Regions from separate parts of the Homo sapiens genome. Here region 1 is linked to region 2. The links come from fine-mapping of genetic effects on gene expression. A gene starts in region 2. The other region holds a variant in brackets. All regions are shown on one strand. Distances are from middle to middle.

The links. PIP is the estimated chance that this variant, and not a neighbour inherited with it, causes the effect.
Region 1: its variant is the best candidate, but not a certain one, in a credible set for the expression of LCE4A in sun-exposed skin (GTEx, PIP 0.57).

The regions. Positions count from the first base shown.
Region 1 is chr1:152,633,379-152,636,306 of GRCh38, reverse strand. No RefSeq gene overlaps it. Among named protein-coding and RNA genes, the nearest start is that of LCE3A, 12 kb to the right of the region's middle. The variant C/A (reference allele first, on the strand shown) is at 1,452.
Region 2 is chr1:152,706,821-152,709,748 of GRCh38, reverse strand. It overlaps LCE4A (late cornified envelope 4A), which reads right to left and starts at 1,589. Exons shown (of 2, transcript NM_001387222.1): 1 at 1,355-1,589; 2 at 315-694. The coding sequence starts at 673. The coding sequence ends at 374.

The sequences.
Region 1 (2,928 bases), 73 kb after region 2:
CCAACTCCTGCGCTCAAGTGACCCCCTCACCTCCTCCTCCCAAAGTGCTGGGATTACAGGCATAAGCTACTGTGCCCTGCCAGGATGTTCTATTTCTGATTCTCCTCATTCATAGTTTATAGCCCTTCTGGCTCCAACCAAATCCTGGAGTGTTTACCAGAACCCCTCCTTCTTGACAGCCCTAAATCTAATTTTCGTCCTCCCTCCTCCCTGACCCCTATGAATTTTCTGACAGATATACTCATATTCTCAACTTCCAGCTACAGCTTTTCAGAATTGGCAAATGTATCAAGAGAAAAGTTGTGTTACATTCTAGGCTGTCTCTTGGCTTCTCTGCTTTTTAGAATTTGGTCCCAAAAATCTTCACTGAATTGATAGGTTGATGACATATTTAGACAGATATTTTATTTTGTCTTTTCTAGCTTTTACAGTTATTCTCTGTGGAAATTTTGTATAAAGTAACCTACTTTTCCATTTCCAAAAGCAGGTCTTCTCTTCTTTTACATCTAACGGTATATAAAATGTCCATGATTTCAATTGCTTGAATGTTTACATTCCACAAATGAGTGAAAACATGAGAAGCTTGTCTTTCTGTGCCTGGCTTATTTCACTTAACATAATGTCTTCCAGTTCCATCCATGTTGTTGCAAATGACAGGATCTCATTCTTTTTATGGCTGAATAATACTCCCTTGTATATATGTACCATATTTTCTTTATCCATTCATCTGTTGATGGACACTTAGGTTGCTTCCAAATTTTGGCTATTGTGATTAGTACTGCAATAAACATAAAAGCACCGATATCTCTTCGGCATGCTGATTTCATTTCCTTTGGAGAAATACCAAGCAGTGGGATTGCTGGATCATATGGTAGTTATATCTAGTTTTTTGAGGAGCCTCCATACTGTTCTCCATAGTGGCTGTACGAGTTTACATTCCCACCAGTAGTGTTCCCTTTTCTCCACATCCTCTCCAGCATTCATTATTGCCTGTCTTTTGGATAAAAGTCATTTTTACTGGGGTGAGATTATATCTCATTGCAGTTTTAATTTGCATTTCTCTAACAAGCGCCGATGAGTACCGTTTCATATGCCTGTTTGACATTTGTGTATCTGCTTTTGATAAATGTCTATTCATGTCTTTTGCCCAATTTTAAAAACGGGTTATTAGGCCAGGCATGGTGGCTCACTCCTGTAATCCTAGCACTTTGGGAGACAAAGGCAGGTGGACCATCTGAGGTCAGGAGTTTGAGACCAGCCTGGCCAATATGGCGAAACCCCATCTCTACTAAAAATACAAACATTAGCTGTGTGTGTTGGCTTGGGCCTGTAATCCCAGCTACTGGGGAGGCTGAGGCAGGAGAATCACTTGAACTGGGAGGCAGAGTTTGCAATGAGCTGAGATCATGCCACTGCACTCCAACCTGGGTGACAGAGCAAGACTCTATCCC[C/A]AAAATAGAAAATAAATAAATGAAATAAAATCAGATTATTAGACTTTTTCCCTATACAGTTTTTTGAGTTCCTTATATATTGTTGTTACTAATCTCTTGTCAGATGGATAGTTTGCAAATATATTCTCCCATTCTGTGGGTTGTCTCTTCACTTCATTGATTGTTCCTTTGCTGTGCAGAAGCTTTTTAATTTGATGTGATCCAATTTGTCCATTTTGCTTTTGTTGCCTGTGCTTTGGGATATTACTTAAGAAATCTTTGCCCAGATCAACATCCTAGAGAGTTTCCCCAATGTTTCCTTATAGTAGTTTCATATTTTGAGGTCTAAGTCCATCAAGTCTTAGTCCATTTTGATTTGATTTTTTATATGGCCATAGATAGGTTGAGTTTCATTCTTCTGCATATGGATATCCAGTTTTTGCAGCACCACTTATTGAAGAGACTGTCCTTTCCTCAATGTATATTCTTAGCACCTTAGTCAAAAATGAGTTTACTGGAGATATATGAATTTATTTCTGGATTTTCTATTTGATTCCATTGGTCTATATGTCTGTTTTTATGCCAATACCATACGGTTTTGGTTACTATAGCTCTGTAGTATAATTTGAAGTCAGGTAATATGATTCCTCTAGTTTTTTAATTTTTATCTTTTATTTTGGGTTCAGGGGTATATGTGCAGTTTTTTTATGTAGGTAAACTCATGCCATAGGGGTTTATTGTACAGATTATTTCATCACCATGGTACTAAGCCTAGCACCCAATAGTTACTTTTTCTGATCCTCTCCCTCCTCCCACCCTCCAACCTCAAGTAAGCCCCAGTGTCTGTTGTTCCCCTCCTTGTGTTCTCATCACTTAGCTCACACTTATAAGTGAGAATGTGTGATATTTGGTTTTCTGTTCCTGCATTAGTTTGCTAAGGATAATGGTCTCCAGCTTTGTTTATGTTCCTGCAAAAGACATAATCTCATTATTTCTTATAGCTGCATTGTATTCCATGGTGTATATGTACCACATTTTCTTTACCCAATCTGTCATTGATGGGCATTTAGGTTGAATCCATGTCTTTGCTATTATGAATAGTGCTGCAATGAACATATGTGTGCATGTATCTTTATGGTAGAACAATTTATATTCCTTTGGGTATATACCCAGTAATGGGATGGCTATGTTGAATGGTAGTTCTGTTTTTAGCTCTTTTAGGAATTACTGCACTGTTATCCGCAATGGTTAAACTAACTCACACTCCCATAACAGAGTATAAGCATTTTTTTTTCTCCACAACTTTGCCAGTATCTGTTATTTTTTGGCTTTTTAATAGTAGCCATTCTGACTGGTGTGAGATGACATCTCATTGTGGTTTTGATTTGTGTTTCTGTAATGGTCAATGATACTGAACTTTTTTTTAATATGATTGCTGGCTACATGTATGTAATTTTTTGAAAAGTGTCTGTTCATTTACTTTGCCCACTTTTTAATG
Region 2 (2,928 bases):
TGGTTGATTTTTCTCTATTTCAGTAAAAGCTATAAATCTATCTTTCTATCTAGGAAAAGGATTGGGATTTAGGTAAAAGTGAAGAAAAGTGGAATAAAAACCACCATCAAACTGGGACTAGAAAATTACTTGAAAGTAAATTTACTGTTGCAAAGCACATCAGAAAATTTTTCAATAATCTGAGAAATATAAATATTGACATAAAGCTAAAATAATGCAAATCCAAGGCCTGAAGTTGATGAGACGCAAACCTGCATGTTTATTCAATTGATGGGGCTACAGAAAGGAAAGGCAAGAGAGTGAAGGAGGTAAAACACCAGGCTGCAATGGGTCCTTCGCCCACTAATTCCTTTGGTGCTGCTCCTGGTCCAGGTCAGCAACAGCCCCCTCCAGAGCAGCAGCCAGAACCCCCAGACTGCTGGCCACTGCCACTGCCATAGCAATTGGAGCTCTTGGGTCTGTGGCAGTGGGACCTATGGTGTCTGTGGTGGCTCAGGCAGCAGCCACCTCCCTCAGAGCTGCAGCAACCACAGCCCCCAGAGCTGGAGCCACAGCAGGAAGAGATTGGAGGTGGGCATGAGGATGCACACTTTGAGGGACATTTTGGGGGATACTTGGGGATAGGACACTTGGGAGGGGGCTGGCACTGCTGTTGGTTCTGCTGGCAGGACATCTTGGTGGGATTTCGATAAACCTGAATGACAAAATAGAAACATATACAGAAACTTAATATCAAGAGCCATTACATTTTTTTTTATTTTAAAATCCTCCCCCAAGGTGATGAAGAGGAATATCTAAAATATGGACATGTATAGAAACCTCTTTCAGACAAAGAGTATATCTTCATTACTTTTGTACCCCTAGAGCTTTCAAAAATTCTTAGTATTTGTTAGGTGGTTAATAAGTGACTTCTGAGCTAATAAAGCCAGCAAAATTTGAATGCCATCTCAAAGACATGTTAAATACATTGCAATTCTACCCACATGAATTTATCTAGAAATGGAATTCAGAAATTCGTAGAAAATCTGTTTAATAAATAATAATAAATTTGAGATCTGCACGGTTAGAGAAAAGCTTCCTTCAGAGCAATGGGCTTAGGACCAGCAGGCCAACCATTGGTAGGGATGTAGCAATCCCAGGTCATTCATCATCTTCCTGTCTGATCACAGGGATAATCCTTCCCAGGTTGGTTCCTGCTTTGTCCAGAGCCAACTACTACTTCTGGCCTTCTGGCCTTGTCCACCATGTCATCCTCCTCCTACTCCACGCTTCACTGTTCGACTTCCAGAATTACTCTCCATCTCCATCTTCATCCCGCTAGCGTCCCCCTCTGGATTCCTATAGAAACACTCACCGTGGGTTCAGACGCAGCAACAGATACGTCCCTTAGGAAGCAGAGCAGATGAGAAGCCAGCAGCAGGAACACACTTTGTATGGATCCTGGGGCTGGGCCTCGGATGAGCCATGCTAATGGCAGGAGCAGGACGTGGCTGTTGCACAAGTGTGGGGTCATGCCTGACATTCTCCTGCCTCCTGGTTTCATCTCTTCCTGAGCTGGATGATGAGCTTCCCAGATAGCCTCTTCGGCACTAGTGGGAGAGGGGGTGACTATATGAGACTTTCTGTAAATCAGACCCTTTTCCCAGGCTAAGGTCTCAATGTACAGCAAACAGAGGGGTTTAAGGCTATGGGTACTTACCTTTCAAGCCTCCCTCTGAACACGCTTTGCTCAGTCCCTCAGGAAGAACTTTGGCACCAAAGGCTCCAAGACTGCCCCACATTTAGCCCCTAACATATTCCAGCCAAATTTCAGCCAGAGGCTCTGGGCCTTTCCCAGGTCAGTCAATCCTGAGAGGCTGGTTTGGTGCCATAGGCCTCCTTACTCTTTTAGAGAGTATCTCCCATGCTTTTAGACCAGGCCAAGTCCCCAGTCCTAACTGTGGAGAGAGATGCCCCTCGGTCAGCCACTCTTCTCTTTAGAATTTCTCTTCTATGAACCCTTCAGCCTGGAATTCAAAGGCTATCATATTTGACTACTTCTATTTGGGTTACCAAGGAATGTGTCACCATCAAGGGGCCTTTTGAGTAGGAGTTTCTGAGTTTTTCTGTTGTGTGTTGTGTATGTGATTCTGCTGCATTTAAGTAGCTCATGAGCACAGATCAGAGACTTGAGACTTTTACCAATTCAGGAACCTTTTGTGGAAGTATCTGTCTGTCAACTACACACACACACACACACACAAGTTGCATTTATTGCAACCATTTTTTAAAAAAAGGACTGATTTTTTTTCTTCAACAAACATATAAGAAGATCATTATGAGGAAAATATTTTTCCCATCATAGAAAAAACTCTTCCCTTTTACCCATCAAAACACTCTAAACCAACAAGAAAAAGAAATTTGGTGTGTGTTGCTCTAATTCTCAAAAGGTTTATATAGGATACAACTCTTCATGCAACCCATTAAGATTGATTTATTTCTCCTTATGTATATCATATATGTTATACGTATATACACATATAATCACGAGGTACTTCTGGAAATACCTACTATGCAAAATAGATGTCTAACAATGACAAAAGTTAGCTGATATTAATGAACATGAAGACATTGATAATGATGACAAGGAAGATGACTAAACCCCCAGCCTATATTTCCTCTCTGTAAAGACAGAAATTACCTACTTTTATAGTAATTTCTGCTATTACTAACTCAGAAAATGAGTATTAGACAGCAGGAACGGAATTGTTGTGGAAGGCAGATTTTCTGGCAAGTATTATTGTAGGAATGTCCTCCCATTTTCCATCTCTCTCCCAATCCAGTGCCCCATGTTAATGGTGTTTCTGGCAAGCAAATCATCAGCTATAGAGGGATGTGGTAACAAGCAACAACCTACCACATTGAGCTCTTAATCTGTGACCAGCACTG